7 linked regions of the Homo sapiens genome follow. The protein of the gene in region 1 interacts with the protein of each later gene in a biochemical or structural test. Each region holds a gene or a part of one and is shown in the gene's direction. Other genes may lie near its edges. The genes, in order: WASL, FNBP1L, ACTR2, VIPR1, FNBP1, SNX9 and PTPN2.

Region 1 (3,500 bases):
TGTGGATTAAGACTGTGTATAAATATATGGAAACTATTTTTATAAAGGTTTAGGGGATTAAAGGAGAGAATGGTGGGAGAGAGGATGATTAAAAGCTTTTTAAAATGGATAACTGATTATTTATATTTAAACAGGTACTCCCTAGGCTGATGAGAGGTATGAAACAGCTTGAAAAGTTAGGAGACCTACTAATAAGTTTGTTAGGTTTGTTAGGGAGCAAGGAGGGCTTCTGCTTGGGCTCTCAGATTTAGGTATGAATTGGAATCATTGTGGAGATTATGAGAAATGCATATGCCTAGGCCCAATTCCTAGATATTACTCAGAATCACTGGATCTGAGGTGAAGCTTGGACATGTCTATTTTTAGCAAGCTTGACAGAAAATTCTAAAGTATATCACAGTTTGAAAACCACTGCTAAAGTCCACGTTGTCTGATAGGATAATCCTTGAGCACATTGGAAATCTTAATAGATTTTTCTTCAATTTTTGGTCTATATTTTGCAAATTGAAGCTAAATTAAGTTAAACCAAATTCTTTTAGTACAGCATTTCTCTCACCGCTGAAGATACCAGTGTACATTTCACAACTAAGAAGGAGATACAGTTGGGGAAGTATTGCACTATTTAATGGGGACTCACAAGATCATATTTGACTTAGAAAATTTTCAGGGGAAAGGTGGAGGCAGTATAGAAGGTGGATTGAGGATTGTGAGGGAAAGACAAGGGAAATCAGATAGTTGATTTATAGTATTGCAGGTGAAATATGATGAGGGCCTGAATTAAGAGAGTACTTTGGGAATTCAAGAACAATTAAAGTCTCCAGCAGAAATTAGTCCCAGTTATATATAGAAGGTGAGGGAAGGGAGTTTCAATAAAGGCAGGCATTATAACCACCAGCAGAAAAAGTACACAGAAACATATTTTTATTCTCATTCGCTGCAAATATGCCTAAATGTTAATGAGACTCTGGATTGGTGATTGGCTTCATGGAGGAGGCAGATCATCAGTAAATCTTTTGTTTTACCACAGTTTCTAAAAATTCATTTTGTGGAAATTGAGATTTCATTGTAATACATAAATACATGATATGTACTTTTACATAAATAGTTCTGATGCCATTCATTAGCTGGTAGTATTATGAAGGGAGAATGAGAAGGTTATAAACAAGATTACTAGGTCTTATTTTGTAGTTAGATCTGTTGCCTTTCATGTAGTGTGATTCAGTTAATTTTATATAAAGAGTATGTGCAGTTTTGCTAAGTGAAGTTCAACATATATAGTCCTGAATAAGTGAGAAACTAAGGAATAGGAAAAAATAAAACATTAAACTACGTCTCTACAGCCATATCTGGTTTATATGGATTGGGGCTGATAATGTTATTGAGCATTATCTTTCCCTGCCATACTCACCTGGTTTGTTTTTTCAAGATTTAGTGATACTTAAGCCATTTTTATTAATCAACCTTAATCTTTATTTCCTTTAACTCCTCAGCACTTGTTTTAACTTGCTTATTTTCTTTAGTTTTTTGTTTCCTCACTATATATAATTCTTGGAGATAGACTTTATGCCTAGGTAGTCTTCTATAATTTTTGTAACTTCTGGCTCCCAGATCAGTGAATACTTATTGATTGATTGAATAATTATAATTACTCGTTTATTTTTTAGGAGCTCATTCTGCGTTTCTTATTGCTTGATTAGGTTGTTAAGCCCTTCAGTTTCTAATGCACATGGTATCTGGACTTTAGTCTTCATTTATTAAGCGACCGAAATGGTTTAGTTGTGCTGCTGAACTAATATAGGTGGTAACAGTTGTCTAACAGTAGTTTGTTTGTGTTCTAAATCAGACCTGTTGGGTAGGGATTCTTACATAGGCATACAGGGAAGGATATGCTTAGAGGGATCATTGTATTGATGATGGCCTGAGTAAGGCACTGTTGGTGGAAAGTTTAGACCGGGAATGTATTTCACCTTGAGTAGTAAGGAAAGATAAAAGTTAAAATTCACTGGATTTGGAATATACAAAGATGAGAAGATACCTTTGTCTAGTATAGAGGAAAAAGATGAGCACAAAAATGTATGTGACGCAGCGTAGCTGTAAGCACAAGAAGAGATTCAGAAAAGTCCAACAGGGTTGGGTTATGAATTTTACTTCTGGTTATTCTTAGCTCTATATATATAATACAGGGACATTTCTTAACTAGTCTCAGCCTTCATGTCTAGATTTGTAAAATGGGCTTAGTCAAGGATTTCAAAGAGTAATTCAATCATTATGGAAAATACTTAGAGTCCATGACACAAAGTATTCTGGGAGTTTGGAGGAGCATATGAAAGAAAGTTGTTATGAATACTATTCAGTGCTCAGTTTAGATTTCCTGTTACTGGCAGGGAGGATTTAGAGTAAAATTTTCAGCTCTATATTGTATTTGTTTTGACTTAGGTAAATTAACAATTTTAAAGTCAGTTAATTATAGGTGTGTAAATTAAAAGTTAAGGAGCAGCTTGAATGTATCTCTTTGGGGAGTGTCTGGGCAGCCTGAGCCTCCCTGGCTGCTAATTGAAGAGGAAGAAAGGGGTCCTGATGAAAAAGTTAGGAGTTCCTGAATTTTAGTCCATGCTCTGCTACCATACATTGTGAATATGAACAGGAATTTTTTTTTTTTTTTTTTTTGAGACAGAGTCTTGCTTTGTCGCCAAGGCGGGAGTGCAGTGGCACGATCTCGGCTCACTGCAACCTCGGCCTCCCAGGTTCAAGTTATTCTCCTCCCTCAGCCTCCCAAGTAGCTGGAACTACAGGCGTGTGCCACTACCCCTGGCTAATTTTTGTATTTTTAGTACAGACAGGGTTTCACCATGCTGGCCAGGCTGGTCTCGAACTCCTGACCTCAGGTGATCTGTCCGCTTCAACCTCCCAAAGTGCTGGGATTACAGGTGTGAGCCACTGTGCCTGGCCATTTCTCCCTTCCTGAACTTCACTTTTCTAATTTGAAAATGAAGGGTCAGACAAGATAACTCCACAGTCTTTCCAGCTTTAATGCTTAATCAGTTTAACTATTCTAGATTCCAGGGACTCTAGCAGGGAAAGAACAGGCCTAATGTTAACTCTAGCATATATGTGTTTTGCACAGCCGAGACTAATATAGCATATATCTAAGCAGAAGGTAGATAATCCTGAATTATTTCATTGAAAATTCCCATTTTTAATTCACCTTTTTCTAAGCATTGTAATTTAATAGGCATTTCACTTTTAAAACAGCAGAGTGAACAGAATAAAAAAGCATTAGTAGTAGAATTACCAACTCTTAGCTAACTTAGAATTATTATTTGTAATTATAATGTATTTTTGGGTTATTAGAAACTGCTTTTTTGGTTAAGATGGAATTATTTTTAAGAATTTCTCTTTTGTTAACCAATTCCATCTAGAATCCTAATTCTGGATGAAATTGTATTAGTGATATGATAGGTGTTACATGTTACTGCTTATTTTCCAATATTAAAAAAATC
Region 2 (3,500 bases), on another chromosome or scaffold:
GATACTGTCTTCACTTCTTCAGGATGCGTGGTAACATCTTAGGCATTGCTTATTGTGTTCATTTCTTTATTACATAGCAAGAATGGATGGATCAGATAGCCAAATATGAATTAATAATTTCACAAAGCACAGATTTTGAAATTACTAGCTTTTTTTTAACAGATAGGGACATTAGAGATTGGAAAAGACCTATGTTTAGTAAATAAGTTTTACTTATTAAGAAATAGGTTTTTAGTTTTTGAGGACCTAGTTAAAGTTCGACAGAAAAAATCTGTGTATGGGTTGTGAATGTGTGTATAAATATGAAAAAAATATATGGCTGAGCACCTCACATTCATATGATTTACTGAAAAATTTGCTACCCAAGGAAAATGCTGGACAAGTCTGGTAGTTAGAAGATGGATTCAAATATCTGATTTAATTTATAAGTGCATATAAATCTTTTTTATGCCTTAATTTCTTGGTCGATATAATCTTTGGCCCTTAGTTTAAGAATGTGTAATTTAAAAGCCATTGTTATTTTCATCATATTATTTATATTATTATTATTTTTGAGATGGAGTCTCTTCTGTTGCCTAGCCTGGAGTGCAGTGGTGCGATCTCGGGTCACTGCAACCTCAGCCTCCCTGGTTCAAGCCATTCTCCCACCTCAGCCCCCCGAGTAGCTGGGATTTCAGGTGCACACCACCATGCCCGACTAATTTTTGTATTTTTAGTAGAAACAGGTTTTCACCACGTTGGCCAGGCTGGTCTTGAACTCCTGACATTGTGATCCGCCCGCCTCGGCCTCTCAAAGTGCTGGGTTTACAGGCGTGAGCCACCGTGCCCGGTCTTCATCATATTATTAACTAAATGCATTTGACAAAGCTTATATCTTTTTGGAAGAAACTGAAAAATGTGGGTTGAGTGATAGATTAGGTGGATAATTTATGTATTATCCTCAGTGTTAACCTTTTAATACTTTATTATCTTGGCTTCATAACACTTTATATAGCACTTAAATTTACATTGTAAGTGACTAGATTGTCCTTGAGTGTAGAAAGGCTGGATTCATCTTTGTTTTCACTGACCAAGACAATGCTTGTAGGTGATCATGCATGTTTTGCCCAATTGCATTAATAGTTGATTGCATTACCCAGAGTATTGATTACTAATTAGCAAGTGTATCTTTAGGGTTCTGAAGGCCTTTGTAGATGGTGATAGGTTAGGTGATCTGGATAACAGCTCAAGAAAGTCTAAAGCTGAAACCAAAATTATAAAGTTAAGTTTTACTACTTGGGTTAAACATTTTTGTCAAGTAAAATGGTAAAAGGATGGGGAAGAAAAGACCTACAGGTAATTTCTGGTGAATTTACTTGATTGATAGCTTGGTAATGTGACTGCCTAAATAATTGGTGAAATCTTAGGCCACATTAATAGATTTATCTGTAACAAAGGAATTGGGTCTCATAGTCTACTGGTTAGACCATATCTGTAATATATATGTATATTTTTAGAGATGGGGTCTTGCTATATTCTCAGGCCAGTCTTGAACTCTGTGCTCCACAATCGTCCTTCCTTAAGCTCTCAAGAAGCTGGGACTGTCTATAATATTGACTTTAATTTTACTTCACATTTTTTGGAGGGTGCTTGTCTAGAGGAGGTTGACAAAGAAAATTCATTATTAATGTAAACTGAATTGCTTCTCCAAAAGTAAATGAAAGGCCGTGAAACTGCTGTAGGAATTCAGTTTTGTTTTAAAAATACAATAATTTTGTGTCTATTATTTGGGAAGCACTGTTATGTTTGGTGAGATTTATGAAGGCTTATGATATTGGCCCTGCCCTGACAAAAGGTAGAGTTGCTTTGAGATGATATAACTTTACTGTAAACTCCAAAATACTTCCCTACATTGATACCACTGCCCAGAATGCCCTCTGTTGACCAATTCCTATCAACCCCATGCCTCCAGACTACCCATTCTGGATATTGTCTTATGGGACTACCACCTTATATTACGGTTATTATAGTTATTTCTTGTGTATTCAAATCTTAGGGAAATTGTCATGGTATAAATACTTAAATATCTTACATTCCCTTTTGTTGGTAGAAATTGTTGTGTTCAACATTGTATTACAGACGTTATTGCTATTAGTTAAGGAGGATGAGTGAGAGGTATCAAGATATCTGTTTATGTCACCATTCCATAATGACTATAATAAGTTGGAAGCTAGAGAGCTGCCTCTAACCAGTATCTCCTTTGCATAGCCACTCATACTCCATTTACTTCCATTTGCTTGCTTTCTTTGCCTTTTTCTTAAAATATTTGCTCTCTCTCCTTCCCCCACCCTATAAACCTATAAAATATGATTTTGGCTGGAAACTTTAAAAAAACCTATTCTACCAACTTTTTCCTCTGTCAGCTAGTTTGTAGAGAGGAAATAGTAAGAGAAATAGTAATGGCTTATAAATGTCAAATACCTTCTGTGTATATCAACAAGTGCTGTCTTATTTAATAATCTTCAATCTTTAAACATTTTCACTTCAATAGCAAAAAAAAATCTGTCTTGGGGAATATATCTATAGAATATTAAAAACTGGTAGGAAAGGTTATGTAAAGGTTTTGTTCTATAGAATGTGAAAGCCGTTCCATATTTCAGTTCAGGCCATGTCTATCTAATACACCTGAAACACGTAAACAGGACTGATGCTTGTTCATTCAACAGATGTTTATTTCATGCCTATTATGGCTTCAGCACTAAGCTAGGCTTTGTGGGGCATACTAAAAGAATCAATTAGATATCAGCATGAGCCTCAAAGCAACCCTAAAACAACTAGAAAGTAATAGATGGACTTTAGGGCTATGAAAAGTGACTTTTCATTCTAGGTATCACAGGAAAATCTTTAGGAAGACTGTCATTTGACCTAGGTTTTGGAATAAGAAGGGTTATGCAGGTGGGGGTTCCTGACAGGTTCCTAGAGGGCAGATATTGTGTCTTACTCATTGCTTATTCATTGTCTGATTCATTGCTGTATCCTGCCTGGATTAGCCTGACATTAGTAGGGTCTTTAATAAATGTTTGTTGGACTGACCTGAGTCTAGTGTTGCGTTTGACTTGAATTTGAGTGCACAATGTCTGAAAGTAGTGATGAAGGGTAGACTGGAACCAGGCAGGCAAAGAGGTTGGTCTGGCTGATTGCTTGATTCATGAACCTCTTGTGTGTGTGTATGGGTGTGTCTGTGTGTGTGTGTGTGTGTGTAGTTACACATTTGTATATAATCAAACCACTTTTCAGACCATTTAAAAATTCACAGAAGAAAATCTTAGTTTATTGGTAGAAGGGATTACCTCTTGCTTCTGAATACTTTGGTGGCAGGAGGGGAATACCTCTGGGTTTTAGAAGATGAAAGTGTATTTATTTTAGCGCCGCTGCAAGAATATTTGAAGGATGTTATTTCCTTTAATAATATGTTACTAATTTGAAATTAGTTTTATTTTTAAATATATATTATTACTACA
Region 3 (3,500 bases), on another chromosome or scaffold:
CAGATGCTGCAGTGAGCCGAGATTACACCACTGCATTCCAGCCTGGGCGACAGGGTGAGACTCAGTCTCAAAAAGAAAAAAAGGGAATTGGGCTTTTACTGTGGGTGAAATATGGGGCTGTTACAGGAAAAGGAGATGCTCAGATTTAGATTTCTCTTGTGTTGTGAGTATCCCACAAGGAGGCAAAGATAGAAGAGTTGGAGACTTTTTCAGTCATTTAAGCAAAAGATAATGATGGTTAGGATTGAAGTAGTAGTAGTAGAGATAGTGAGAAATTACCAGATTATAGGTCTGTTTTGAAGGTAGGGCTATAAATGATACGGTTCAACAAAGAAGAGGGTAGACAGTGGTGAAAAGGCCAAGGACCAGAGAGATAGGAGGAGCCAGCAGAAGGAGATTGAAAACGTTATTGAGGCCGGGCTAGGTGGCTCCCAGCACTTTGGGAGGCCAAGGCGGGTGGATCACTTGAGACTAGGAATTTGAGACCAGCCTGGCCAACATGGCAAAACTCCGTCTCTACTAAAAACACAAAATTAGCTGGGCATAGTGGTGCACGCCTGTAATCCCAGCTACGCAGGAGGCTGAGGCAGGAGAATTGCTTGAACCCAGGAGGTGGAGGTTGCAGTGAGCTGAGATCACCCCACTGCACTCCAACCTGAGCGACAGAGCGAGACTCTGTCTCAAAAAGAAAAAAGAAAAAGAAAAAAAAAGTTAATGAAATAATGAAATAAGCAGTTACAGAGGAAAGAGAGAGCAAGAGAGCTATGATCCTCATAGTTTAAATAAGTAATTTTTCAAGGTTCTTTTATTTTTGTATATATGAAGTAGAAATTTAATAACTTCTGTAGCTTTCCAGTTACTGTTTAATGTACATATTTTGTTTACGAATATGTTTAAATGTTGATGGAAATTTTTGAAAGGGTTTAGAAGAAAATGTTGTTAGTATTTTTAAAGCCTGTATTAAAACTCAGTTTTTGTATTAAGTGTTTTGAAAATCTAAGATCATGGTTTTAAAGAATCCATATGATTTCTTATGGCTTATATTTTAATATTCTTATTTGTTTATGACTACAAATATGTCTATGACTGATAGTGTCCTACCTTAATCTCATTAACATGCTTTCACATTGGTATGTGCATATATATGATCATTCTTCCATTTTCATCCCTGTGGAGGTGGAATAAAGGATGATGGAATAAAATACTATTCAGACTATCTAATTGCTTAATTGATGAGTATGTGTTTCAGAGTTGTAGAATTTAAATTCTGTGTAATTTTCATTGTGGTCAGTTGTAAAATTTCTAAATATTTAGATATTCAGAGTGATAGGCAACCCTACCAGTCAAGGGGTGCTCAGTCAAGATCACCAAAAAAAAAATCATGCAGGATGTTCCCAGCTGACCTGGGCTACAGAGAATGAACATGTGTGTGACCAGTGAGGGCAAAAAGGAAAGAACTCCTCCTTCCAGGGTAGTTCATTTGGAGGTTGTAATTACAGTCTTGATTCAAGTAGGGACTGGGCTCAGCAGCTAAGCCATTTCTGTATCTTCCAGCAATCAGGAATTAACCATTGATTTTTGTCTTTGCCGTGGCATTTTACTGGGTTTTTTATTTTTTCTTTCTTTCTTTCTTTTAATTTTTAAGCTGCTCAGGGTAGACAGAGCTACACTCTTGGCCCAGATTGAGGGAGGGGGTACGAGGCTCTGTAAAGCAATTTCTATATTTTGTCTTCGAATTAAAAGATATTTCCCGGCCGGGTGCGGTGGCTCACGCCTGTAATCCCAGCACTTTGGGAGGCCGAGGCAGGCGGATCATGAGGTCAGGAGATGGAGACCATCCTGGCTAACACGGTGAAACCCTGTCTCTACTAAAAATACTAAAAATTAGCCGGGTGTGGTGGTGTACGCCTGTAGTCCCAGCTACTCGGGAGGCTGAGGCAGGAGAATGGCGTGAACCAGGGAGGTGGAGGTTGCAGTGAGCTGAGATGGCACCACTGCACTCCAGCCTGGGCGACAGAGCAAGACTCCGTCTCAAAAAAAGAAAAAAAAAAGATATTTCCCTGGCTGGATGTGGTGGCTGACACCTGTAATCCCAGCACTTTGGGAGGCCGAGGTGGGTGGATCATGAGGTCAGGAGTTCGAGACTAGCCTGGCCAACATAGTGAAACCCTGTCTGTACTAAAAATACAAAAATTAGCCAGGCATGGTGGTGCATGCCTGTAGTCCCAGCTACTCAGGAGGCTGAGGCAGGAGAATCAGTTGAACCCTGGAGGTGGAGGTTGCAGTGAGCCAAGATTGCGCCACTGCACTCCAGCTTGGGCAACAGAGTGAGACTTCATCTCAAAAAAAAAAAAAAAAAAAAAGAATTTCCCTTAAGGGATATCAATTAAGAAAGTCTTGTTCAATACAGAGAGCTTTCTTTCACACTAATTAGTCATTAACTAATACACTAAGAAATCTTTGCTTTGTCACGCTTATGAAATGCTTGGGGACTTAGAAATCTGTCTTCAGATTTGGAGCTCTGTGGCAGCAGGACTTCAATAAGAAATAAGAGGAGCTGATGAAAATGGAAGACTATTTCAGGTCCATTTGATTCTATTTTGGGCAATTAATTCACTCTGTGACCATGAGGAAAACATTTATTTATTATGTAATTTTCTAAATACCAGTTTTTTTCTTTCTGTCTGCATTTACAGGTAATGTTTGAAACTTACCAGTTTTCCGGTGTATATGTAGCCATCCAGGCAGTTCTGACTTTGTACGCTCAAGGTAGGTTAAGCTTAACTGTTAGAAAAAACACTTCATCAAACATTTATTATGTATGTTTTATGTCAGAGAATTTGGTTTCTCAATAAGTTATAAGCCCCAGAAAACTACATTATTTATATACCACACTTTGAAATATTTTCAGTTTTTAAAATTTGTGAAATAAGATTTTATATACATTTTTATTTGCTAAATATGTATTTAAGGTAAAAAAAAAAGGCTTAAAGACTTATTTTTTAAAAAATAGGATATTCTCTCTTTTAAGCTATTTAAATTTTTTTTGAGACAGATTTTCGCTTTTGTTGCCCAGGCCGGAGTGCAATAGTGCAATCTTGGCTTACCACAACCTCCACCTCCTGGGTTCAAGTGATTTTCCTGCCTCAGCCTCCCAAGTATTTGGGATTACAGGCATGTGCCACCACACCTGGCTAATTTTGTATTTTTAGTAGAGATGGGGTTTCTCCATATTGGTCAGGCTGGTCTCAAACTCCTGACCTCAGGTAGTCCGCCCGCCTCAGCCTCCTGAAGTGCTGGGATTACAGGCATGAGTCACCGTGCCTGGCATAGCTATTTTAATTTTTTATGCATGGAATTTGTCCCCAGAATTGGCTTGAGTTAAAAAAAATACGCAGAGATTCAAAAAGGTAGCATAAAATCATGCCTGTCAAATATATAGTAGATTAAAAAGGAGAAGGTAAACATTTGGGAGTGCATTTCTAACTTTTGAGGTGGGT
Region 4 (3,500 bases), on another chromosome or scaffold:
ATCCCTTACCCCAAGCTCTGGGTTGGGCTTTCCTGCTGAGGGCACAGCCCCACCTGTGGGCACACACAGCCAGCCTGGGCCCTGTATTTCTGTAGGCCTGGTGACATGTGTGATGGGACCTATGGGGCCTCATTAGGGCAGGCACACAGGAAATACTCCCGTTGCCTAGCCCAGGACAACAGGCCATTCCAGGTACCAAGTATATTCATGGCTGTCACCCCGTCCCCTGCTTCCCTGACCATGTCCCTCATATTGGCCTCTCATCCTGCTCCCCTGCCCTGCTGGCTGCCCTACACCCCAGCACCAGTTCACAGCCCAGCCTTGGTTATGCTGAGATTCCTTGAGGCCAAGTGTGGCCTCCCAAGGGCAGGGCCTGGTTTCCTCTCTTCTGTCCCACTGCAGTGAAGCAGAGCTCAGGGCCAGAGACCCAGCCCCGGATTCACTCCCTGGCCTGTGCTGGCAGCCGGAGGTTTAGAGAGCCCAAAGTCTGGCAGGGACTCAGACACAATAGCCGGCCTACAAAACAGGGCGTGCCCAGTGCTGTCAGAGAGGGGTAAACAAAGTCCAGCAGCAGCAAAATTCCCAGAGAAATGACAGGCCTTCCAACCAAGAGGAGTGGGAATAGACTGTACCGCTTACCAGCAACATGACCTTGAGCTGGTTTTCTAATCAGTCTGTGCCTCCATTTCCTCATCTGTGAAATGGAAGCATTAAATAAGTTATTCATCCAAAGAGGTTAGAACAGTGCCTGGCACATGCAAATGTTATATGAATGTTTGCTGATATTCTTAACAGGGTCTTGAACCCCCAGCAGGGTTTGACTGACCTGAAGTGCCCCTACTCAGCTTTCAGAGAAGCTGGCCCAGAATGGAAGAGGGACTGACAGCCAACATGAGGCCACAAGAGCCCTCAAGACAGGTTGGGGGAAAAGTGGTCAGGGTCCATGACCAAGGAAGGCTGCAATCTCTGGCCAAGCCCTAGGGATCCAGGTGTCCTCCTCAGCCTTCAGCTATAGATGTGGCCTGACTGCTGCAGCCCCAGAAAGTGCCCCTTGCTGCTGCCAGCCCACTCCAATGCACACAGTCCCGAGGCTCTTCCCCAAGTAAACACATCCCTCCACCTCCTCTTCCCAGACCCCCTTCTTGGGAACTTGTGAACCTTCGGACCTGAGCTGGGCTGGGCTGGGCTTGGCCCAGCTGGCGTTGACTTTGGCTCAGGGGTTGGGTTTTCTGAGCAAATCTATGGGACTGGCAGGATTGCAAAGAGACAATTAAGCCTCCTGCATGGGATGGGTCCAGAGCAGTCCTAGTCCCTCACGGGCATGAAGCTTCTGAACAGACTAAATGATGGCATTTGCATGTGCCTATTCAAGCAGACCCCTAGAGACCACACTGTGCATCTTTCACTGGCCAGGCTCTGCAAGGCTGTGGCGGAGAATGCAGCCACAATGCAGGGTTTTCGCTGCACTTGTTCCCTAACTATTCCCCTCCATCACAATTCACAATCCGACCACGTTGGGGGAATCTGTGTTGTTCAAGAACTAGGTGCGGGCTGGGCACGGTGGCTCATGCCTGTAATCCCAGCACTTTGGGAGGCTGAGAGGCAGGTGAATCACCTGGGGTCAGGAGTTCGAGACCAGCCTGGCCAACATGGCGAAACCCCGTCTCTACTAAAAATACAAAAATTAGCCGGGTGTGGTGGTGGGCTCCTGTAATCCCAGCTACTCAGAAGGCTGAGGCAGGAGAATCACTTTAACCTGGGAGGTGGAGGTTGCAGTGAGCCGAGATCATGCCATTGTACTCCAGCCTGGGCGACAGAGCAAGACTATGATGGGGTGATGAGTATATTGGGATGCATCTAGTTCTTTTTTTTTTGAGACAGAGTCTCAAAACATTTTCTAATGCCTCCTTCACTATCATAATATGAAATTCAGGACACGTACCCATCCACTTTATAAAAAATAATGTTCTAGCTATACTGTAAAATAAATATTAAAAGGAAAGTAATTTACAATAAAGTACCATGTACATATTCAAGCATAACCACACTAGATGTAGTCTGAAGGTTGTACCTACAAATATAAATCCTGGGAATGTGAGGCCTACAAATGCAGACTGATGGACACAGGTAGTTGTATCGGTGACTCAAGTATCACAGGCAGCACTGCTATGGGTATCATGATTTTCCAAAACATTGAACAACTCTTAGTGAAGTTCAGAACAAAACAAAATACAATCTTCCCTCCCTTTTCTCAGTGGCTGCATTCCTGGAAAACTCCATGTATGTTAAACTTGTGCAATAAACAGCTTGTGTTGGCCGGGCGCGGTGGCTCATACCTGTAATCCCAGCACTTTGGGAGGCCAAGGTGGGAGGATCACTTGAGGTCAGGAGTTCGAGATCAGCCTGGCCAACATGGTGAAACCCTGTCTCTACTAAAAATACAAAAATTAGCCGGGCGTGGCGGCATGGGCCTATAGTCCCAGCTACTCGGGAGGCTGAGGCAGGAGAATTGCTTGAACCCAGGAGGCAGAGGTTGCCAAGGTTGCACCACTGCACTCTAGCCTGGGTGACAGAGTGAGACTCCATCTCAAAAAATAAGTAAGTAAATGGCGTGTGTTTATACATAAAATGGTGTAAGAGTCTAGGCTCTGGTCATTATGAAAGGTTTTCACCTATACATATGCCCAGTGGCTCATCTGGAAGCCATGCAGAATGTGAGACAATTCATCATTGTGCAGGAGTTGTCTGTCTGGCATCCCTGGTGACTGCCCATCAAATGCCAGTGAGGCCCCCCTATTGCTGCAACAGTCAAAACCACCACTGGCATTGGAAACATCCCCAGGGGGCGCTCCATCCCTCACTAAGGACCAAGGAACTGTAGTCAGGCCTCCTTCCTGCCTCCCTGTCAGGACAGCCCCGTGCAACCTCCGCAGGGCTGTGCCTCCCCTCTCAGACTGGAGGCTCCTTGAGGTGGGAGCCTGGCAGAGGGAGGAAGAGAGTGGGTGCCTATGGCCTCAGGCCCCAGGGCTGGAGGCACCTGCACTGTGCTCACCCATGTGTCTTCTGCCTTACCCCCATAGGCTGCAGCAAGATGTGGGACAACCTCACCTGCTGGCCAGCCACCCCTCGGGGCCAGGTAGTTGTCTTGGCCTGTCCCCTCATCTTCAAGCTCTTCTCCTCCATTCAAGGTAAGACCCCTGGGTTGAAGAGGTGATGTGAGTGGGGCCGGCTGGAGTGGGGACTCACCTCTCAAGGAAGTGGAAAGGCAAAGGAAAGTGGTCAAAGAGGCTGGAGCAATCCGAGGGACTCCCTGGCAGAGGAGGCAATGGTGCTGGGTCTTTAAAGAACTCACAGGATTTGATTAGCTCTTCACATAAAGATAAGCATGTGGGAAAGGCTCACTAAATATTTGCTCAACAATTGATAACTGATTGACTGACAGGTACTTGATTAAATTATGACTCCCATAGTCCTGTTGTCTTGGGCTGGTCTTGATTCAG
Region 5 (3,500 bases), on another chromosome or scaffold:
ACTCCCTGAACCATGGTGGGTAGGGCAGAACTGCTTCAGAAGAGAAACAAAATCAACTTAGTTTTGCCATCCTTACTTCTCCATGAGAACAAATTTTGCACATGTCTTTTCTGTTTAGTGGATATTAAAAGAAAACAAACCGTGGGAGGCCTGGAGATTTTGCAGTTGATATTTAGATATCAGTTTTGTTGCCCTCACTTTGTACATTAGACAGAATCCTGAAAATTTGTGTAAATTGCCATTTTGGTAGGCAAAACTGTACTTTAAGCACATAAAAGAGTTTTATAAGTGTCTATACTTACTATGTGAACACATTACAACTCATGCTTTACATTGGTGAGACATGGAAAGTGCTTCTTTGAAGGACTATTCAAGTATCACCCACTAAGCAGCTAAAGCTAATATTATGTTTCCTGCAAGTATTACTCATACTTGTTTCATCAACACCACCCACATTTAAAAATAAGGCTTTATTTTGACACTTAAAAATTGAAAGCTACTAAGAATACATGAATGCCCTGGGAAATTAATCTAATTAGATTTTAGAATGTGGGTGTGAAGTCTTCTGGAATTAGTGTTTATAAAGGAATATTTGTTTCCTGTTTTACTTGTACACTCATACTAGCTTGAGCCTAGTAATGTGTTTAGTTAAAAAAACTTTTTTTTTTAATGATGAGGCCAAATATGTGTATTATATTAGAGAGTAATTTGGGGGTATGTAAGTTTTTGTTTGTTTGTTTTTTGAGATGGAGTTTCGCTCTTGTCGCCCAGGCTGGAGTGCAATGGCACGATCTCAGCTCACTGCAACCTCCACCTCCCGGGTTCAAGCGATTCTCCTGCCTCAGCCTCCCGAGTAGCTGGGATTACAGGCGTGTGCCACCACGCCTGGCTAATTTTGTGTTTTTAGTAGAAATGGGATTTCACCATGTTGGCCAGGCTGGTCTCAAACTCCTGACCTCAGGTGATCCACCCGCCTTGGCCTCCCAAAGTGCTGGGATTACAGGCATGAGCCACCGTGCCTGACCTCTCTATTATCTTAAAGTCTCGAATGATTGTTATCATTACTGCCATTTATTGAGTGCCTACTATGCCCCAGGTGCTGGACAAAGTGTTTACATCCATCATCTTGTTTATTTGTTACAAGAATCCAGCAAGGTAACTACCATTTGTGCCAATATCCTGGAAGAAGAGGCTTAGATGGAGTCATTAGTACAGTTTTACTGGGGAGTAACACCTGTGAAGGGGAAAGAGTGGAAGCCATCAGATCACGATGCAGACCTGACAGAGTCCCCACCAGGCCAATGGGGAGCTCCAGAGCAGACACAAGAATCCTCTGGCAGAAATGGCTCGGCCTCTGTATCTCTGCCTTCCTTTATCATTGGCCAGAGGTCGTCCCAAGAAGAGGATGGCCTTGGCTGCCAGCTTGCTTAGTCATTGGCTGGGGGTGCTACAAGAAGAGATGCCCTCGACTCAAAAGATGAGGTGGACCCTAAAGGAGGCTGCATGCTAGCCACAGTCCTTGCAGCTGGGCAGCGAGTCATTTTTTGCCACTTCTCCATGTTGCCCAGGCTGGGGTGCAGTGGCACGATCTCGACTCACTGCAACCTCTGCCTCTTAGGTTCAAGTGATTCTCCTGCCTCAGCCTCCCAAGTAGCTGGGATTACAGGCACATGTCACCACACTCTGCTAATTTTTGTATTTTTTTTGTAGAGACGGGGTCTTTCTATGCTGCCCAGGCTGGCCTTGAACTCCTGGGCTCAAGTGATCCTTCCACCTTGGCCTCCCAAAGAGCTGGGATTACAGGCATTAGCCACTTGGCCAAAAACTGGATCTTCTGTGTTAGTAGTGCACAGTTCCCTTTATCCCCACCACTCACTCATATTTCCCCATCACTGCAGTAGATTTTGCTTTATAAAACAGTTGATGTTATTCATATTGAGAATCACTGAGAATCAATGACTCACACCACTAAATGCTGCAGAGCCAGCAGAAACAGTCATGAATGAAGCTCGTACTCAAGCAGATGCTTCATAGATGTCTAGTAATCTCCTAATCCTTTCAAAGCCAGTTATTGTTTCTCTTTTCTAATTTAAATAAATTTGTGTGGATATTAATTAGTAGGAGTAGTATCAAGTTTCTGAATTTGCCCAACAGAAGTATGTCTTGGCGAAAACTATTTTTAAGGAAATTGAGAAAGAACAAGGAGGAATACAGAGTCTCACTCTGTTGACCAGGCTGGAGTGCAGTGGCACAAACATGGCTCGCTGCAGCCTCAATCTCCTGGGCCCAAATGAGCCTTTCGCCTCAGCCTCCTGATTAGCTGGGACCACAGGTGTACACTACCACGCCTGACCAACTTGTTTTTTTTTTTTTTTTTGAGATGGAGTCTTGCTCTGTCGCCCAGGCTGGAGTGCAGTGGTGTGATCTCAGCTCACTGCAATCTCCGCCTCCCGAGTTCAAGCGATCCTCCTGCTTCAACCTCCCGAGTAGCTGGGAGTACAGGCGTTTGCCCGGCTAATTTTTTGTATTTTTAGTAGAGACGGGGTTTCACAGTGTTAGCCAGGATGGTCTCGATCTCCTGACCTCGTGATCTACCTGCCTTGGCCTCCCAAAGTGCTGGGATTACAGGTGTGAGCCACCGCAGCTGGCCTGTCTAACTTTTTTTTTTTTTTTTGAGACAGAGTCTTGTTCTGTCACCCAGGCTGGAGTGCGGTGGCGCAATCTCTGCTCACTGCAAGCTCTGCCTCCCAGGTTCATGCCATTCTCCTGCCTCAGCCTCCCGAGTAGCTGGGACTACAGGCACCCGCCACCATGACTGGCTAATTTTTTTTTTTTTTTTTTTTGTATTTTTAGTAGAGGCGGGGTTACCATGTTAGTCACTGTGTTAGCCAGGCTGGTCTCACTCTCCTGACCTCGTGATCCGCCCGCCTCGGCCTCCCAAAATTCTGTGATTACAGGCGTGAGCCACCGTGCCCAGCCCGGCCTGGCTAACTTTTTTAAAAAAGTTTTTTTTGTAGAGGTGGGGGGGTCTTCCTGTGTTGCCCAGGCTGGACTTGAACTTTTGACCTCAAGTGATCACCGGCCTCGGCCTCCCAAAGTGCTGGGATTACAGGCGTGAGCCACCATGCCTGGCCGACATTCAGGGTTTTAAAGTTTTGAGTCTTCAGGAACAAGAAACGAAACACTTTCTCTATTATCTATAGCAGAAGAAAACTTGGGACCTGTAAAGGAATCTCCTCCCCTTGTACTTCTATTTGCACAGCCAAAATTGAGAACGGGTTCCTGAAATCCATTTAAAGACCAGACAGGCTCTGGGGACAAACGGTGTGGGTGCTCCCAGTTGAGTGAGGCAGTGCTGGAGGGCTCAGCCTGGGTTGCCTTGCTTACCTAATCTAATATTTATTAGTATCGGGCAAGTCCTTGCATCTCTGTTCCTCGCTTTCCCAATCTATAAAGTATGGTATGATGCTTGCCTTTCTCTTGACAAGAAGGCATAAAGG
Region 6 (3,500 bases), on another chromosome or scaffold:
AATGTGACACAAGCCCTTCGGTTTCATTCCACATTTTGATTGGTGGTAGATTTTCTGTCTAGGTGATATTTAGTTGTAGATTCCCAAATGAAATTCTGGAAAAGAGAACTGTAGCTATCTTCTGATCCTATTGACTTAACCCTGTAACAATTAGATTGGGAACCTGAAGCCTTGAGTGTTCTCATCCTGGACTCAATCGAGGATGAGGAAACATCTGGTCTTATTCTGTAGTCTTTGGAAACTTGATAAAATTGCAGGAATAGTATTAGATTCTCTAATTACTTGTGCCTGCATGTTTGAAAAACTCCAAATCCTGGAAGCCTCCAAGCTGAAGAGCTGTAACCAAGAGCCCTTTTTATGCTTTTTCCCTCAAAGCAAATTTGGGATAATTAACTTCTGAGTAGTTATATTAAAGATTTTTTTTTCCTGTTTTCTCTGGACTTAATAAAAATTGAACATGTACCATTATTCTTTTCATGACATTTAAAACTCCTCAAAATCAAGAGCGCACAGCTCTGCCTCAGTTTTGTTTTTTTGTTTGTTTGTTTGTTTTTAAGACAGAGTCTCACTCTGTCACCCAGGCTGGAGTGCAGTGGTGTGATCTTGGCTCACTGCAACCTCTGCCTCCCGGGTTCAAGCAATTCTCCTGCCTCAGCCTCCCGAGTAGCTGGGATTACAGGCATGCACCACCACGCCTAGCTAATTTTTTTTGTATTTTATAGTAGAGACGGGGTTTCACCATATTGGCCAGGCTGGTCTTGAACTCCTGACCTTGTGATCCGCCCACATTGGCCTCCCAAAGTGCTGGGATTACAGGTATGAGCCACTGCGCCCGGCCTGCCTCACATTCTTAAAGGGGACTTTGTCCCAGGTTTGCAGTGGTGGTACAGAGCTAAGGGTTCCAGCCTTTCATTGACCGGCAAGTTTTAAGTAGAACTGCACCCATGCACCCAGTAGGCAGGTCTGCCTGTGTGGGCGTCTATACATGGAAGAAGCTGAGGAAAGCCACCGCGTCTTCAGGAGGCCCAGAGAAAGCAGAGACTAACTCTTTGCTCTAAAAGTGCAGTAACCTTGCCCACTCATGAAACAGAGCCCCGTGAAATTGGGCCTTAGCCAAGCACAGTTGCTGCTCTCGGCCCACTCACTGAGGGAGGTCCCGAAAGTCATCTCCTCTGCAGCTTTCAGCTAGTTTCTTGGATCTGGGCTCTCCCTGAGGGGGTTATAGTAATTGTTCTCAGAGATTTTAGTCTCTTTTTAAACTACTCTTATCCTTGGAGTAGGTCACCTTCCTGACCTAACAGCCTCTGAACTTTAATATCCCAATCCGCTTTTCCCATCTTCCTCTTAAAAAAAAAAATTAGGACTGGGTATACCTTTTTTTCCTTTTTATGTCTGTCTGGCCTTGCCTCTCTGAGGTCTCAGCCGAAACAAATCTCTCTTCCTTCAGCGCAATCTGTGTGATTTTTCTCATTTTCTTTTTACTTTCTTATGGTACTTTTTCAAGTCTGCAAGAATAAAACCTGTTCCATAAATTATTTCATTCTCCTTGAATCTCTGAATGAATCTCTGAGTGAATCTGCTTCCTGAATAGTGGTCCTTTTACAGTCCATGTGTTTGTTTTTTCATTCTCTTCTTGGATTATAACTCAATTATTTTTCATTTTCAAGCCAAGAAGATAGATAACATTCTCAGTATAATAAGGACTTCTATTGCTCTGAAATGTGTTTTGATAAGAGCTACTGTCCTGCAGTCTGAACCTCTAGAATCTGTCATTGTGATCAAAGTTTATGAAATGAATGAGGCAGAACCAACTTGAGACTATTGGTGACTCAGGTAGTGATTCCAGAAGCCTGTACATGAGCTCCAGCATCCAGGTTCCTCTGCAGCTGCCCCCATGGCCTTGGATGCTGTTTTAAATAAGATGAAAAAACCAGGTTTGGGACAGCAGACCTATTGTCACCTAGCAGTGCCTAGAAGAAATGATCCTCAGGCTCAAAACTTACACGAGGTCTCTACACCCCCACATAGAATTTAGCTGGTTTCCCTTCCTCACCTCCCACCACAACTAAAACCCCAGTGAGCTAGTGTAAGCCTCGCCTGAATTTGTGAACTTTTGCCCTAGTCACAGATAGAAGAGAAGGCCAGTGAGAAAAGAATGGAGGCCTACCCTCTTCAGGCAAGCCTTGCCCAGGTGGACGTGATACCCGGGGGTTGGAAGTGAGCCAGCCCACTGTGCTTAGGCACATAGCAGTCCACGGAAGAAAACAGCTAGCCTGGTTCTTGCTTTTAAGATGTAGTACCTCCCCCTCCCCCCACCTTGCCACTAGTAGTAAAACAATGACTATCAGGCTCTGGCCAATCTGATTAATCGTTTCTATGAGCCAGAACAATGCTACTCAAAGTATGGTCCACAGACCACTTGCCCATCTGAAAACTGCTTGTTCCTGATCCACCGTGAGATAGGTACAGTACATGAGAATATTTTGAAAACTTGAGGACAATTTGGTATTGTTGAAAAATCAAAATGTGTAATGTTATATTTCACCAAACTATTAGTCTGTGATAGATTCGAAATTTTTAAAAACTAGTCCTTCATCACGTGTAGCTTGAGACAGCTAGACTAGAAAGAAACATTGTCTTGTAACCAGCACTGTCCTTGGGAGAGGGAAGCTGGTGTCTCCTCTCCATGGGCTGAGCTACTCACGTGGGAGCAGAAGGGTTTCCCACAGGTGTGTTCTTTAAACATAATATCTAACAGGAACAGAAACCATTGAACCATTTATGTACCTTTCAAAGAGGAACAAGAATGACCCTCCAAAGGACTTCTCATTCTGAAAAGAATTACTTGCTGATTCACATCAATTGTATTTATTATTTTTCCATGTAACAAAATTACTTCTTTCTGGAACATTGGCATAGGTTGGAGATTATGGCCCAATGTGGGTTTATCCTACCTCTACTTTTGACTGTGTGGTAGCAGATCCCAGGAAAGGCTCCAAAATGTATGGTCTAAAGAGCTACATCGAATATCAGCTAACACCTACTGTAAGTATCCACGTTATCAAAAGCAGAATCATGTTTGGATCACTGATTGCAGCTTGCTTTTTTCTTCATTTTCTAGAGTTGGCATTGGTAACCTTTTCTCTTTCCCTTATTTTGTAGAACACTAATCGATCTGTAAACCACAGGTATAAGCACTTTGACTGGTTATATGAGCGTCTCCTGGTTAAGTTTGGGTCAGCCATTCCAATCCCTTCTCTTCCAGACAAACAAGTCACAGGTGAGTGTGTGTAATGCTAAACCCAGGATGACAAATAGAAAGACTCCAGTCAGATTATCTTCCTGTAAGTCAGTGATGGCATTTTCCATCCTGTAGAGCAGCAGGATGCAGGAGTTGGAAACAGTAATTAAATACAGCTATGAAGAGAGAACCATTGCATGTTGTACATCTATCTGGAAGTTGCCTAAACGTCTCACAAGAACGTTTAATGTGCAAATCA
Region 7 (3,500 bases), on another chromosome or scaffold:
GGCTTAGGCAGGAGAATCTCTTGAACCTGGGAAGTGGAGGTTGCAGTGAGCTGAGATCGTGACACTGCACTCTAGCCCGGGTGACAGAGACACCATCTCAAAAAATAAAAAATGCTTTTAGTCTAGAACCACTTTAACCCCCTTGTTGTATGTGGGTCTGAAGCTCTGGGCAGCCCTAGCCCCCACTCCTGACTCTGCCCCTAACTCATACCACTCTGCTACATTCCATGTGAGTTGAATGCATGTTCATAGTTATTTTAGGTGTAGCAAAACTACATCTCATTTTAACCTTCTCATTTAAAACTCGTTAAAATTTGTACATAGGCTTTTCATCTCTTATTAGATCTTCCTTTTGCCCTATGCTATCATTAAAATGTGAAAGCAATTGGAAATACATGAAATATTTTGCTTTTATCCCCATGGCATTGTTGTAACATGGACTGTTGCCCCTTTTTAACTCTGCCCAATACTCTTCCATTGAGGCCGTACATACTGTGCATTTGTAGATTAACAGTTTCATTGTGGTTCAGGTACTTTAATGATTCCTACTTTTTCTAGAAATCTTTTTGTAGTTGACTTGAGTTGGTTGGCTGGCCAGTGATGGTACAGACTTTTTTCTCATGGATTTTCTATGATGTGTGGGAGGCACATCCTCTTGGCTGTAGAAGATGAAGAGGACAGAAATTTCCTTGGTCTACCTTCTTTGCAGCTAGAACATGATCAGTCAGATACTCCTACTCGTGATTTTGTCTCTGATTTGCCTATAGATTGTACATGAATACTATAGCCACCTTCATATGGCAGTGCCAGCAAAAGCAAGGAGATAGTAGTGACGGTATCAAGAGCAGCATCCCAGGTTGACTTTCTTTGGGGCAGGACCTTGCTTGTGTCTTAACCCTTGGTTCCTACCCAAGTTTGTCTCTCTAGTCCTCAACTCTGAAAGCCACTTGATATCTTACACAATTCCTTTTTTGCCTGAGAAAATAAAAGTCAGTTTTGATCATTTACAACCAAAAATCCTAACTAACACAGACCTGTTTTTGAAATCAGGTAGATTGGAAGTCTTGGTTTACTTCTTATAAGCCCGTCCGCTGTCTGTCTTGTAACATCCCAGGAGCAGACTTAACAAGGCCTTCCTGGAGCCTTGCTCTTTCTGTCTGCTTCCCTCATCTGCTCTCTCTCCTCTCTCTTCACAGGGTCCACTTCCTAACACATGCTGCCATTTCTGGCTTATGGTTTGGCAGCAGAAGACCAAAGCAGTTGTCATGCTGAACCGCATTGTGGAGAAAGAATCGGTGAGTAATATTTAATATTTACAACTTAGTATACTGTATGTGATCATTAGCATATAAAGATTTTCATTTTGGGGCCAATATTCATTCCTTAGTTTTGGCCTTTAATTGCTAAAGGCTAGCGGTCAAAGTGTTTCTGTCCGGAAAAACTCATGTATCCTTTTCCTTTCTTAAGTATTTTTATAACAATTGCAGACCTTTCATCTCCAAGATAGAAATACAATGGAATAAATATGGACTAGCAGTGACATATAGATCTTTGGAATCCCTAGGAATCCTTATTGACCTATTGTCAATAAGTCCTCTTCCAGCTTTAAGATCTTGTACTGTTCTACTTCAGATTTCTTACTTTATTCTACATTTCATAATTGCTGGTTTTTAATGATGATGAAAATTTCCTAATCCACTTCTAATTAGATGTGGCAATGACATGCCAGAATTTCCAGCAGTATCAGCATAGTCATTTACAGGGGTTTTTCCTGATCTTCAATATCATTTAAAAATTAAGGATTAGGCCAGGCACGGTGCCTCAAACCTGTAATCCCAGCACTTTGGGAGGCCGAGGCAGGCAGATCACTTGAGGTCAGGAGTTTGAGACCAGCCTGGCCAACATGGTGAAACCCCGTCTCTACTAAAAATACAAAATTAGCCAGGTGTAATGCTAGCTACTTGGGAGGCTGAGGCAGGAGAACCGCTTGAACCTAGGAGGTGGAGGTTGCAGTGAGCCGAGATTGTGCCACTGCACCTCAACCTGGATGATAGAATGAGACTCCATCTCAAAACCCACTGCACTGCAGCCTGGGCGGTAGAGTGAGACTCCATCTCAAAAAAGAAAAAAAAAAAAATCAAGGATTATGACATTGTCAGTTTGAGCACCATTGTAGACTACATGATTTGCAAATTTTATTTCTCTCATTTTGGAGTATAATTACTGTATTAATAAGATAACACTGCCACCAGAATTTAGAAATCATGTTTATGGTGGTTGAACCTAGATGGTTAACAAGAGTCAGGTTTAATTATTTTGGGGAAGATTACTTCAGAGGTGGTGGGTAATGTGTTATTCATCAAGAGACCCATAATGTCTGATTATTGTTCTTTTTATTTCATTAATAGCCATTATTGGTCAGTGTTCAGCTTCTTAATTCATTATGGGTTACAAATGATGATAATCCAATTCTGTCATTACTTCTCTTAAAAGCAGTTTTCCAAAAAAAAGTTGATTCCCTATTGAGGTCATCTGTTCTCAACAGATGACCAATTAGGAGTTTTTCTGGTGGAGAGTGGCAGGAGAGGTTGAATTATTATGGGTTTGGACATACTGGATTAATTTTACTCCTTTGCAGTTATTTTCCTTATTTTTGATCAAATTACCCTGTCATTGGCTAGCAGCAATGTCTTTAGGTTGGGTCCTGAGTCCTCTTTTTTTTTTTTTTTTTTTGGAGACAGAGTCTCGCCTGTTGCCCAGGCTGGAGTGCAGTGGCATGATTTCAGCTCACTGCAGCCTCCACTTCCCGGGTTCAAGAGATTCTCCCGTCTCAGCCTCCCGAGCAACTGGGATTACAAGCACCCACCACCATGCCCAGCTAGTTTTTGTAGAGATGGTTTTACCATGTTGGCCAGGCTGGTCTCAAGTTCCTGACCTCAAGTGATACGCCCACCTCGGCCTCCCAAAGTGCTGGGATTACAGGCGTGAGCCACCTCACCCAGCTCTGAGTCCTTTTTAACAAACCTTTAATAGTTTCCTTGGCTGGGTGCAGTGGCTCACACCTGTAATCTCAGCACTTTGGGGAGCTGAGTTGGGTGGATCGCTTGAGCCCAGGAGTTTGAGACCAGCCTGGGCAACATGGTGAAACTCTGTCTCTACAAAAAATACAAAAATTAGCTGGGTGTGGTGGCGCATGCCTGTAGTCCCAGCTACCTGGGGTACTGAGGCAGGAGGATCACTTGAGGCCAGGAAGTCAAGGCTACAGTTAGCTATGGTCGTGCCACTGCACTCCAGCCTGGGGACAGAGCGAGACCCTGTCTCAAAAAAAAAAAATTTTTTTTGCTGTCTGTAATGACTGCATCTCAGGCTCATCTCAAACTCTTGCTGCCCAGACCTGGAACCAGCCATTTCTCTAAGGAGTTTTGGTTTCTTTTAATGGGCAGCAGTATTTCAAGATCACAGCAAAAATAAGGATATATATTGCAACTGGACTGGTCATT

The links.
Region 2: the proteins of WASL (region 1) and FNBP1L form a complex in vitro, tested with the Homo sapiens proteins (one study listed by BioGRID).
Region 3: the proteins of WASL (region 1) and ACTR2 interact in a test that uses a peptide from one of them, tested with the Homo sapiens proteins (one study listed by BioGRID).
Region 4: the proteins of WASL (region 1) and VIPR1 form a complex in vitro, tested with the Homo sapiens proteins (one study listed by BioGRID).
Region 5: the proteins of WASL (region 1) and FNBP1 form a complex in vitro, tested with the Homo sapiens proteins (one study listed by BioGRID).
Region 6: the proteins of WASL (region 1) and SNX9 form a complex in vitro, tested with the Homo sapiens proteins (one study listed by BioGRID).
Region 7: of the proteins of WASL (region 1) and PTPN2, one has a biochemical effect on the other in vitro, tested with the Homo sapiens proteins (one study listed by IntAct).

The regions. Positions count from the first base shown.
Region 1 is NC_000007.14:123,742,504-123,746,003, reverse strand, and holds part of WASL (actin nucleation-promoting factor WASL), read left to right. Parts: intron 1-3,500. UniProt on the Homo sapiens protein: Regulates actin polymerization by stimulating the actin-nucleating activity of the Arp2/3 complex. Involved in various processes, such as mitosis and cytokinesis, via its role in the regulation of actin polymerization.
Region 2 is NC_000001.11:93,451,118-93,454,617, forward strand, and holds part of FNBP1L (formin-binding protein 1-like), read left to right. Parts: intron 1-3,500. UniProt on the Homo sapiens protein: Required to coordinate membrane tubulation with reorganization of the actin cytoskeleton during endocytosis. May bind to lipids such as phosphatidylinositol 4,5-bisphosphate and phosphatidylserine and promote membrane invagination and the formation of tubules.
Region 3 is NC_000002.12:65,248,331-65,251,830, forward strand, and holds part of ACTR2 (actin-related protein 2), read left to right. Parts: intron 1-2,696; coding exon 2,697-2,769; intron 2,770-3,500. UniProt on the Homo sapiens protein: ATP-binding component of the Arp2/3 complex, a multiprotein complex that mediates actin polymerization upon stimulation by nucleation-promoting factor (NPF).
Region 4 is NC_000003.12:42,516,143-42,519,642, forward strand, and holds part of VIPR1 (vasoactive intestinal polypeptide receptor 1 isoform 1 precursor), read left to right. Parts: intron 1-3,080; coding exon 3,081-3,188; intron 3,189-3,500. UniProt on the Homo sapiens protein: G protein-coupled receptor activated by the neuropeptides vasoactive intestinal peptide (VIP) and pituitary adenylate cyclase-activating polypeptide (ADCYAP1/PACAP).
Region 5 is NC_000009.12:130,033,190-130,036,689, reverse strand, and holds part of FNBP1 (formin-binding protein 1), read left to right. Parts: intron 1-3,500. UniProt on the Homo sapiens protein: May act as a link between RND2 signaling and regulation of the actin cytoskeleton. Required to coordinate membrane tubulation with reorganization of the actin cytoskeleton during the late stage of clathrin-mediated endocytosis.
Region 6 is NC_000006.12:157,906,746-157,910,245, forward strand, and holds part of SNX9 (sorting nexin-9), read left to right. Parts: intron 1-2,919; coding exon 2,920-3,045; intron 3,046-3,162; coding exon 3,163-3,280; intron 3,281-3,500. UniProt on the Homo sapiens protein: Involved in endocytosis and intracellular vesicle trafficking, both during interphase and at the end of mitosis. Required for efficient progress through mitosis and cytokinesis. Required for normal formation of the cleavage furrow at the end of mitosis.
Region 7 is NC_000018.10:12,828,738-12,832,237, reverse strand, and holds part of PTPN2 (tyrosine-protein phosphatase non-receptor type 2), read left to right. Parts: intron 1-1,196; coding exon 1,197-1,295; intron 1,296-3,500. UniProt on the Homo sapiens protein: Non-receptor type tyrosine-specific phosphatase that dephosphorylates receptor protein tyrosine kinases including INSR, EGFR, CSF1R, PDGFR.